Linked DNA regions of Homo sapiens: region 2 is linked to region 1. A link means that fine-mapping ties the variant in region 1 to the plasma level of a protein whose gene starts in the linked region. Region 1 holds a variant in brackets. A gene starts in the other region. All regions are shown on their reverse strands.

Region 1 (5,369 bases):
CTTGCCCAGGCGGGAGTGCAGTGGTGTGATCTCAGCTCACTGCAACCTCTGCCTCCCAGGTTCAAGTGATTCTTCTGCCTCAGCCTTCCAAGTAGCTGGGACTACAGGTGTGTGCCACCACGCCCGGCTAATTTTTGTATTTTTAGTAGAGACGGAGTTTCACCATTTTGGCCAGGCTGGTCTCGAACTCCTGACCTCGTGATCTGTCTGCCTCGACCTCCCAAAGTGCTGAGATTACAGGCATGAGCCACCGTGCCCGGCCATCTTGAATTCAACAAACATCTATTGAGCATTTTCTGTGTGCCAGACCCTGTGCTGGGCACTGGACATATGGCCATGAATAAGAGTGGCAGGCTCCTGTCCCCGCCCTGGGGAGCTTGCAGTCTACTGGAAGAAACAGGCAATAAAGAATTAAACAAACAGAATGACAGGTAATGACACAGAGGGGGCCTCTTCTGTGGGGGTGACATTTGAGTAGGGATCTGAGTAACTCTGCATGGGTATGTGTGTGGGATGATGTGTCTGGTGGAGAAAAGAATTAAGGAAAGTCTGAGGCTGAAGGCACTTGGTGTGTTCCCAACAGTGGTAGAAGATGGGCTTGGAGAGGAAGGTAGGCAGGAGCTAGTTCACCTGCAGTGTTTCCAGAGGTCGTGGCCAGAGTCTGGGTTTTATTTTGTGTGTGATGGGGAGGATGTTGAGCAGGATAGAAAAATTCTATGATTCCCATTTTTAAAAATATCACTTAGATTGATGTAGAGAGGCTAGACCTACAGGAGAAATGGTGAGACAGGGAGATAAGGCAGGTTGTCCCGGTAACCAATGAAAATGGCTTGAAGTGGTGTTGGTGCTGATAGAGAGAATTGTATAGATGTGGGGCATCTTTTTTTTTTTTCGAGGCAGAGTCTCGCTCTGTTGCCCAGGCGGGAATGCAGTGGCGCAATCACAGCTCACTGCAGCCTTGACCTCCTGGACTCAAGCGATCTTCCCACCTCAGCCTCCCAAGTAGTTGGGACTATTGGCGCATGCTACCACACCTGGCTAATTATTTTTTGTAGAGACAAAGTCTCACTATGTTGCTCAGGCTGGTCTTGAACCCCTGGGCTCAAGTGATCCTCCCACCTCAGCCTCCCAAAGTGCTTTGATTACAGGCATAAGGTGAGGCGTCTTTTGGAGTTAGAGACACCGGGATTTGCTGATGTGGGGTATAACAAAAAAAGGAAGTCAAGGATGACTCCTATATTTTTGACTTGAGCACTGCATAAAGCTGGTGCCATGACCTGTGATGGGGAAGCTTGGAAAAGGAGCAGGATTTGGTACTTGCTAGGGTTGGGGGGGAGCTAAAATATGGATCTAGCTGGGTGGAAGAGAGGAAGAAGGCCAGAGGGCGGTGACATCCTCATGATTCCTGGCTAGGGGTTGGCAATCTTGTTAGACCAAAGCCTGGGTTATGCGGGGGACTCCTGCAGTATTAGGACACCTGGAAAAATTCGAGTTGCATTATGTTGACCACTTCTTGCAACATTTCAGCAAGCCCTGCAGAAAAGGGACAAGCTTAGGCTGAAGATGGTGGCCTATCCTTATTATCAAAGGAAAAAATCCCTTCCTTTGGGGCCCCCTCCCTTCACTTACTTTGAAATGTTGTGACTGGCTTATGAAATCCAAACATCTAGACAGAGCTGCTATGGATCCTCCACCTCTTCCTCAAAACAAGTAGAGGCTGGAAAGCCCACGTGGAGTATAAGGAAAGCACAGACGGTTAGGAGGCTTAGAGGACCACAGAAAGAGGTCCCCATGAGTCAGAGTCAGCTAGCAGACTGACAGAGGCATAGAAACTGGGAAGAAGGGTGGGATATGAAGAAGAAAAGAAAAGGGAAGTCAGAGAGAGAGTGAGCTGCCCAAGGCTGACATCCGAGCCCTGATGGAGAGGCACCAGGTGTGGGGATACAATGCCCTAGGACCGAGGACCCAGGGAAAGCAACACCTCATAAGGAACCTTAGAATCCTTGAGTTTCTAATCTGGAGGTGACTTCAGACACCAAGTGGCCTGTTCTTCACACAGAAAATGGACTGGCCTTCAAGGAGGAAATGGGAAAGAAAGAAGAAAACAACAGATCTCCCAGCTTTAGAAATCACGGAAAGTCAGTCCACAGCTTTGGCCTGGCTGAACTCAGCAAGCCCCAGCCCTTTTAGATTCCTTTTACCCATTTGGTAAATGTCCAGCCCTCACGCGGACTGTTTTGTCCAGTTGCATTCTGGAAACAGATGATCATTTCGCCTGTCTGGAGAGATGTAATCGGGGTCTTCCTGGCCTGAGATTTGTCCTCCTCAGATAATCCTCCTCTCATTCCAGCTGGGTCCCCTGTCACATGTCCCCAGGTGCACCCATGCTGACCAACACAGGCGCATGAGCTGCAGTGCTCATATGCTCAGGCAGAGTGAGGAGAAGGGGGTCACTCCCTGAGGGGTAGCTGGGGTGGGCGTTGGGGGTGGGGACTGGGCAGGAGAGGAGATGGGCTGACGCAGCTTCTCCAAGCCATGCAGAGATCCAAAGAAAACACAGCTGGAGGCACAGCGAGGGAGGAGGGGGCCAGAGCAGTGCATGTTGACATGTTGGGCAGCAATCCAGCTTGGCCTCCTGTGGTCAGTGGAGCCCGTGTTTACTTCCTTGGACCAGTTATTTCCTCGTACTGAACCTCAGTTTCCAAATCTGCAAAACAGGGCCAATAATAGCTATCTCAAGGCACTGCTGTGAGAGTTACATGGGATAATGAAAAAGAGAGAGACAGAGAGAGAAACCTAGTTACAAGCATAGGCTCTGGGGCCAGACTGACTTGAGCTTATAACTGCTGGGCCTCAGTTTCCTTATCTGTAAACTGGGGGTGAGGATACCTATCTTGTAGGATGTTATGAAGTGTAAGTGAGTTAATATGTGGAAGCACTTTCTGGCCAAGTGTGGTGGTTCACGCGTGTAATCCCAACACTTAGGGAGGCCGAGGCAGGCAGATCGCTTGAGGCCAGGAGTTTGAGATCAGCTTGGTCTACACAGTGAGATTCTATCTCTACAAAAAAATTTTAAAAGTTAGCTGAGCATGGTGGTACAT[G/A]CCTATAGTTCCAGCTACTCGGGAGGCTGAGATGGGAGGATTACCTGAGCCCAGGGAGGATGAGGCTGCAGTGAGCCATGATCGTGCCACTGCCTTCCAGCCTGGGTAACAGAGTGAGACCCTGTCTCAAAAAAGCACTTTCTGTTTGTTAAGCAACTATGACAACTATTAATACTAATAATCAGGCCAGGCACAGTGACTCATGCCTGTAATCCCAGAACTTTGAAAGGCCAAGGCGAGAGGATCGCTCGAGCCCAGGAATTCTAGACCAGCCTGGGCAACAAAGTGAGAGCGCCCCACCCCGCCACCAAGTACTAGGTTCCACACTTTGTATACTTTATCACTTTAAATCCTCACTGCCACCCAGGGAGGTAGGTAAGTACTAGATCATCCCATTTTACAGATGTGGAAACTGAGGTTCAAAAAGTGTTTTTTTTTTTTAGAGACAGGATCTTGCTGTGTCACCCAGACTGGAGTTCAGTGGCACAATCATAGCTCACTACAGCCTCGAGCTCCTGGGCTTAAGCAATCCTCCTGCCTCAGCCTCCCAAAGTACTGAGATTATAGGCATGAGCCACCATGCCTAGCCCAGAAAGAGATTTTTCATTTCCTCTGGAACAGGGGTTGGTAAACTATGGCCTGTGTGCTAACTCCAGCTCCCAGCCTGTTCGTTAGATATTGTTTATGGCTGCTTTCATGCTAAAGTGTAGGGCTGAGCAGCTGCGATAGAGACCACAGGGTGTGGAAAGCCTAAAATATGTACACTTTGGCCTTTTCAGGAACAGCTTGCTGACATTTGTTCTAGAAAAAGGCAGAAGCAGGACTTTGCTATCCTGATTCCTTTACAGGAACAGCTTGCTGACATCTGTTCTAGAAAAAGGCAGAAGCAGGACTTTGCTATCTTGATTTCTTACCAGTATTGCTGTGCTGGGTACACAACTGAGGCTGGAAAGGCACTTCCTTCCTGTCCCTCTGAGTGCTGGGAAGCCTCTCCTTCTCTCTTCAAAGCCAGGGATGAGGCCGGGCGCAGTGGCTCATGCCTGTAATCCCAGCACTTTCAGAGGCCGAGGTGGGAGGATTCCTTGAGGCCAGGAGATGGAGACCAGCCTGAGTAACACAGTGAGACCTCATCTCTACAAAAAAAAAAAATTACAAACATTAATCAGCCGTGGTGGTGCATGCCTATAGTCCCAGCTACTCAGGAGGCTGAGGTGGGAGGATTGCTTGAGCCCAGGAGGTCAAGACTGCAGTGAGCCAAGATTGTGCCTCCGCACTCCAGCTTAATAGGCAGAGCCAGACTCTGCCTCAAAAGACAAACAACAACAAAACCAGGAGTGAAAGTGGGAAGGGATTTGGGGATTTGGCTCTCTCCATGTCTCAAGCCCGGTGATGAGCACTCGAGGAGGCTGCCAGAGCCCATCCCACGCTGCACATCTGCTGACATCACTCTTAACGTTTGAGGGTTGTGTGCACCATATGTTTTAGAGGAAAAGGGAAATCAATGTATTAAAGAGGGACAGGCTGAGTGGGGAAGGCCCTGGATTCAGGGCCAGTGACTGCACCTTCTCCTCCACCAGCCCAGGTCAAGGCTGTATTTATTTATTTATTTAGAGACAGAGTTTCACTCTTGTTGCCCAGGCTGGAGTGCAATGGTGCGATCTCAGCTCACTGCAACCTCCACCTCCTGGGTTCAAGCGATTCTCCTGCCTCAGCCTCCCAAGTAGCTGGGATTATAGGCACCTGCTTCCACACCCGGCTAATTTTGTAATTTTAGTAGAGATGGGGTTTCACTGTTTTGGTCAAGCTGGTCTGGAACTCCTGAACTCAGGTGATCCACCTGCCTCAGCCTCCCAAAGTGCTGGGATTACAGGCATGAACCACTGTACCCGGCCGGTCAGAGCTGTGTTTAGGGTCAATTGAACTGAGGCTAACATGGTACAGGAGGAGATAAAGGATCTGGGTTGGCATAGGGATCGCCTGCTGCCCAGGGACATTCAAGGACTCCAAACCAGTTCAATCACTCAGTAAATATTTAGTCAGTACCTACTGTGTGCCAGGCATGGTTCTAGGCACTAAGGACACAGTGTTGAACAAAATTCCAGCTCTCACGGGGACAGACAACAAACAAGAAAGAAAATATTCAATAGTAATAAAATCTATAAAGAAAATAAACCAGGCTGATATGATTGAGAGCGATTAATAGATAGGCAGGCAGGGAAGGCCTCTCTGAAAAAACGCCATTTAAACTGAGACAAAATGCTGGGCGTG
Region 2 (5,331 bases), not on the chromosome of region 1:
ACGCAGGTCCCTCACCCCGGGATAGGCGTCCTTGGCGAACACCTGCAGCAGCGCCGTCTTGCCGCACTCTGCGTCTCCCACCACCACGATCTTGCAGCGGCCGCTCTGCCCCTCCATGGTCCCGGCTACGCGCCGGTCCCCCACGCCACCCCTCTCCCGGGCCCCGCCGCCGCCTCCCCCGCCCCTGCAACTGCAGCCGCTCGGGCCGCCAACACCGGCATCTCGCGGGCCCGCGCCGAGCCCCCGCCCCGGGTCCGCGGCCCCCCCTCCGCCCCGCCCCCAGCCAGGCGGCCGCGCCCCCCCGGCCCCTCCTCCCACCCCCGCAGCCGGGGGGCGGGGCCCAGAAGATCTGGGCGGAGCCCTGGGAACAGAGGCCTCAGAGCCGGGGTCCAGCCCGCCGGTGTGGTCTGAGGGGCCCCTGCCGGTTTGGGACAGGCCGAACTGGGCTTATTTGACTTTCTCGGATATAAGGGCAGGTCAGAGTTCAAGCGAAGTTCTTAGGGGTAGAATATGAGCGGCACAAGCGCGAAGCTCGGGCCTGCTGTGTACCCACGCGTGCACGCAGGTGTACCAGTGCGGACAAGAGCTGGGGCAGCCATCCACTTCCTGAACACGGCGGGAGAGAGATGCTAAGGGGAAGGAGGGAGCCTCTTTGGTTTTCTCTCCCGCGTCCGCCTATGTCCTGGCAGGGGGTCTTGGGGAAATGGGAGGGTGAACCCCAGCACACCCACCCGGACGGTGGTGACATCATAGCTTTCCGTCCCCATGGCAACGGGCAGCCGGGTCTCCGGTTACATTGACTTAACCGCCGGCCTAGACTAGCAGAGAAGCGTGGACTGAGTTCCTCCAGCCAAGCACTGGGTGGAAAGTTTTGGGGGAGCTGCGTCCTCTGGTGGATGCTTGGGGACAAGGAGATAAGGAAGAGAAAGAACCAACCGCCAGAGTTGCTCTGCTGGAGCCAGAGCTAAACCCAAAAGTCAGGCTTGATTAAGAGTCTGACAATAGGCCGGGCGCGGTGGCTCACGCCTGTAATACCAGCACTTTGGGAGGCCGAGGCGGGCGGATCAAGAGGTCAGGAGATCGAGACTATCATCCTGGCTAACACGGTGAAACCCGCACGGTGGGCGCCTGTAATCCCAGCTACTCAGGAGGCTGAGGCAGGAGAATGGCGTGAACCCGGGAGGCGGAGCTTGCAGTGAGCCGAGATTGCCTCACTGCACTCCAGCTTGTGCAATAGAGTTTCGAAAAAAAAAAAGTGCTTTTTTATATCGAGGCAATTCGAGTCAATAATATATGCTGCAAATAATTCTGTAAAGATAACTAGAAGCTGGGCGCGGTGGCTCACGCCTGTAAACTCAGCACTTTGGGAGGCCAAGGCTTGCTTGCGTGCAGGAGTTTGAGGCCATCCTGGGCAACATTAGCGAGACCCTCTCTCTAGAAAAAAAAATCAAAACTTAGCTAGGTTTGGCCACTCTAGGCACGCTGCCTATGGGGTAGCCCTGCTCTGCAAAGAGCAGTAAAACATAAAGTTAGCCGGGCGTGGTGACACATGCCTGTGGTCCCAGCTATTCAGGAGGCTGAGGTGGGAGGATTGCTTGAAGCCGGGAGTTTGAGGCTGTAGGGAGCTGTGATCGCCCCACCTCGCTCAGCCTGGGTGACAGAGTGAGACCCTGTATCAAAAAAATAAAAATATAAATATAACTAGAGCACGCAGCATCATCACTATGTTACAGAAGGGAAAATGAGGAACAGAACGTTAACACCAAAGTCAGAAAGTTTTAAAGGCTTGGTCTCCATGCTTCTACTTTGCCACTGCAAGACCACAGTGAATTAAGTCTCATCCCTGCCTGGGTTAGATGTCAGAGCCTGAGACACAATGTAGTTGGACTCCAGTCCACAGGTGGCTGACTCCAAATCTGATATGAGTTAACTCCAAATCTGATGTAAGTTCAAGTTTTGGGACTGTTCCTTAACTTTTTTTTTTTTTTTTTGAGACGGAGTCTCGCTCTGTAGCCCAGGCTGGAGTGCAGTGGCGCGATCTCGACTCACTGCAAGCTCTGCCTCCTGGGTTCATGCCATTCTCCTGCCTCAGCCTCCCAGGTAGCTGGGACTACAGGCGCCTGCCACCACGCCTGGCTAATTTTTTGTATTTTTTAGTAGAGACGGGGTTTCACCGTGTTAGCCAGGTGAATCTCCTGACCTCGTAATCTGCCCGCCTCGGCCTCCCAAAGTGCTGGGATTACAGGCGTGAGACACCGCGCCCGGCCTTTTTTTTTTTCGAGATGGAGTCTCCCTCTGTAGCCCAGGCTGGAGTGCAGCGGCATGATCTTGGCTAACTGCAACCTCCGCCTCCTGGGTTCAAGCAATTCTCCAGCCTCCGCCTCCCTAGTAGCTGGGACTATAGGCACCTGCCACCATGCCTGGCTAATTTTTGTAGTTTTAGTAGAGCTGGGGTTTCACCATACTGGTCAGGCTGGTCTCGAATTCCTGACCTCAGGTGATCCACCCACCCGCCTCGGCCTCCCAAAGTGTTGGGATTACAGGCGTGAGCCACGCCGCCCGGCCCTTTTTTTTTTTTTTTTTAACAGGGTCTCACTCTGTTGCCCAGACTGGAGTGTAGTGGCGCGATCTCGGCTCACCTCCGCCTCCCAGGCTCAAGCGATTCCTCTGCCTCAGCCTCCCAAGTAGCTGAGATTACAGGCGCGCGCCACTACCGCCCGGCTAACTTTTTTATTTTTAGTAAAGACGGGGGTTTCACCATGTTGGCCAGGCTGGTCTTGAACTCCTGACCTCAAATGATCCACCAGCCTCGGCCTCCCAAAGTGCTGGGATTACAGGCGTGAGCCACCGCGCCAGGCCTATCCCTTAAAATAGTTTTTAATTTGAATAAGGTTTACTATGAATAAATAAATCACAGTCGGCTTGATCCCAAGAGCACAGACGTTCCTGGTGCCCCTTTTCGTGCTCTCCCAGCTTGCGCCACTATGGCCCTGGCCCTTTAAGGCTGAGCGCGAGGCCCCGCCTCGCCCGGCGCCCCGCCCCTCCCGCTGGATCCCGCAGCCGCGGCTCTTCCCGACGCGTTCCGCCTTCCCCAGCTGTGCACTCTCCATCCAGCTGTGCGCTCTCGTCGGGAGTCCCAGCCATGTCCGACGAGAGAGAGGTAGCCGAGGCAGCGACCGGGGAAGACGCCTCTTCGCCGCCTCCGAAAACCGAGGCAGCGAGCGACCCCCAGCATCCCGCGGCCTCCGAAGGGGCCGCCGCCGCCGCCGCCTCGCCGCCACTGCTGCGCTGCCTAGTGCTCACCGGCTTTGGAGGCTACGACAAGGTGAAGCTGCAGAGCCGGCCGGCAGCGCCCCCGGCCCCTGGGCCCGGCCAGCTGACGCTGCGTCTGCGGGCCTGCGGGCTCAACTTCGCAGACCTCATGGCTAGGCAGGGGCTGTACGACCGTCTCCCGCCTCTGCCTGTCACTCCGGGCATGGAGGGCGCGGGTGTTGTGATCGCAGTGGGCGAGGGAGTCAGCGACCGCAAGGTGAGCGGGTTGCGTAGGGCAGGGCAGGGCTGCGCAGGCCACTGGGCAGTGGGGCACGAGTGGGCGAGCGCCGGGGGTGTGGCAGGGCGGGAGAAACTGGCGCGGACCTGGGTGCACGAGCGTGGAAAGCGTAGCCAAGGAACTTGTGTTTGGGGGCTCCTGGAGAGCGGCATTTATGTGGGGAGGGGAGACGAAATTATCGCCCCTTCCCCAACCATTTTTAGTTGTGGCCGCCGCCCAGAAGCTGTGCTGGTGGGGGGGAAAACAATAAGGTGCCCATGCGCATGCGCACAACCACACTACCGTCCCCACCCCCCCCCCCCCCCCCCATTAAAACCACACCTGTACCCCTACCCACCAAACACTCTCTGGGTAATTGTGGTCTGTGACTATGAGTGACGGTTAGTGCCCCCTTTCCCCGAGGGAGCTTGAGGGGCTATGTCGTCGGGGTTGGGCGGGGGCACAGCGGCCGTGCCAGAGTCCTGGTCACATGCAGCCCCGTGGTCTGTGGGGGTGTGAGGCGGCCCCTCCCAAAGCAAGGCCAAAGAGACGAGACACGCCCATCACGGAGGAGAGAGAGCCTTTGCTACCCCACCGCCACCAGCCTTACACCGCCGATCTGATTTTGGGGTGGGGGAGGCGGGATTGGGTCATCCGATCTTTGTCTTGGGCTCTGTGTCTCCCGTGACTGCAGTATCTCCTCCTCCTGTGACTCAGCCCTCAGCCTTCGGGCCACGACCCGGGGCTGCCCTTGGGAATGCCTGGGGCGGGGAGTGGAAGGGGGGACCCACCTCTGCCTTCCTCCTGCAGAGGACCCCCACTTCAGAAACCCCAGTGCCAGGGGTTTGGACTGGAACGGAGAGGTGCGGCGCCTTGAACTGGTTGGCCAAGTCTGCAGGCCTGTTTCTCCTTCTCATTTATCATTAATCTTGGCCACAACCCTGGACACCAGAGAGCTCAAAATGATCAGCTTTTTGAGAGACCTGGGATGAGGCCTCAGCACGCCATTTGTTTAGAGGTTTCTTTTTTTTTTCTTTTTCTTTTTTTTTTTTTTTTTTTTTAGACGGAGTTTCGCTCTTGTTGCCCAGGCTGGAGTGCAATGGCGCGATCTCGGCTCACCGCAACCTCTGCCTCCCGGGTTCAAGCGATTCTCCTGCCTCAGCCTCTCGAGTAGCTGGGATTACAGGCATGCGCCACCATGCCTGGCTAATTTTGTATTTTAGTAGAGATGGGTTTCTCCATGTCGGTCAGTCTGGTCTCGAACTCCCGACCTCAGGTGATCTGCCCACCTCGGCCTCCCTAAGTGCTGGGGTTACAGACATAAGCCACTGCGCTTGGCCAGGAGTTTCCTTTTTAAATCAGACCCCTCAATGAGAGGCCCCACAGATGCAGCCTCTTGCAGACCTGCCAGCCCAATTCTGGAGCCAGGTTTGTTGGATTCATCCTGTATGCAAACAGCTTCTCCTTAAGGCTTTCCTCTGAATTCAGCTCTGGCCCCACCCTCAAACTGACTTCTAAATGATCCCACTCTTGAGCAGGCGTCTAAGAGGAATATTTTCGGGAGGTAGTTGTAGTTCATGTTACTGCTGAAGGCCACCCACCTCACCTCCCCTCCATACACTTTCCGCCTGGTAAATACAGGATATCCTGTCCAGGGCAAGAATCTGATGTAAGAGCCTGGATTCTGCGGGGAGGGCCCTTCCCTCTCTCTCCCTCCTCCTCCTTCCTGGTGTCTGGGTTGGGGAGGGGTCATGGCCCTGATTTGGATGGCCTGAGGGTTAGCATGAGCCAGGGTAAGTGAG

Direction of the effects. Alleles are on the strand shown, and positions count from the first base shown. The strength of an association depends on the size of the effect and on how common the allele is.
For the plasma level of the protein whose gene starts at base 3,080 in region 2, allele A in region 1 goes with a lower level than allele G (moderate association).

The links. PIP is the chance, under the fine-mapping model, that this variant and not a neighbour inherited with it causes the effect. The UK Biobank Pharma Proteomics Project read protein levels with antibody pairs (Olink). The fine-mapping took linkage between variants from a reference panel, not from the people measured, so its PIPs are less certain.
Region 2: VAT1 starts here. The variant in region 1 is fine-mapped to the plasma level of the VAT1 protein (UK Biobank, PIP above 0.99).

What each region holds. Positions count from the first base shown.
Region 1 is chr20:45,917,064-45,922,432 of GRCh38, reverse strand. No RefSeq gene overlaps it. Among named protein-coding and RNA genes, the nearest start is that of PLTP, 7.6 kb to the right of the region's middle. The variant G/A (reference allele first, on the strand shown) is at 3,102.
Region 2 is chr17:43,020,134-43,025,464 of GRCh38, reverse strand. VAT1 (vesicle amine transport 1) reads left to right here and starts at 3,080. Exons shown (of 6, transcript NM_006373.4): 1 at 3,080-3,529. The coding sequence starts at 3,143. RND2 (Rho family GTPase 2) reads right to left here and starts at 234. Exons shown (of 5, transcript NM_005440.5): 1 at 16-234. The coding sequence starts at 117. RefSeq lists a silencer at 271-410.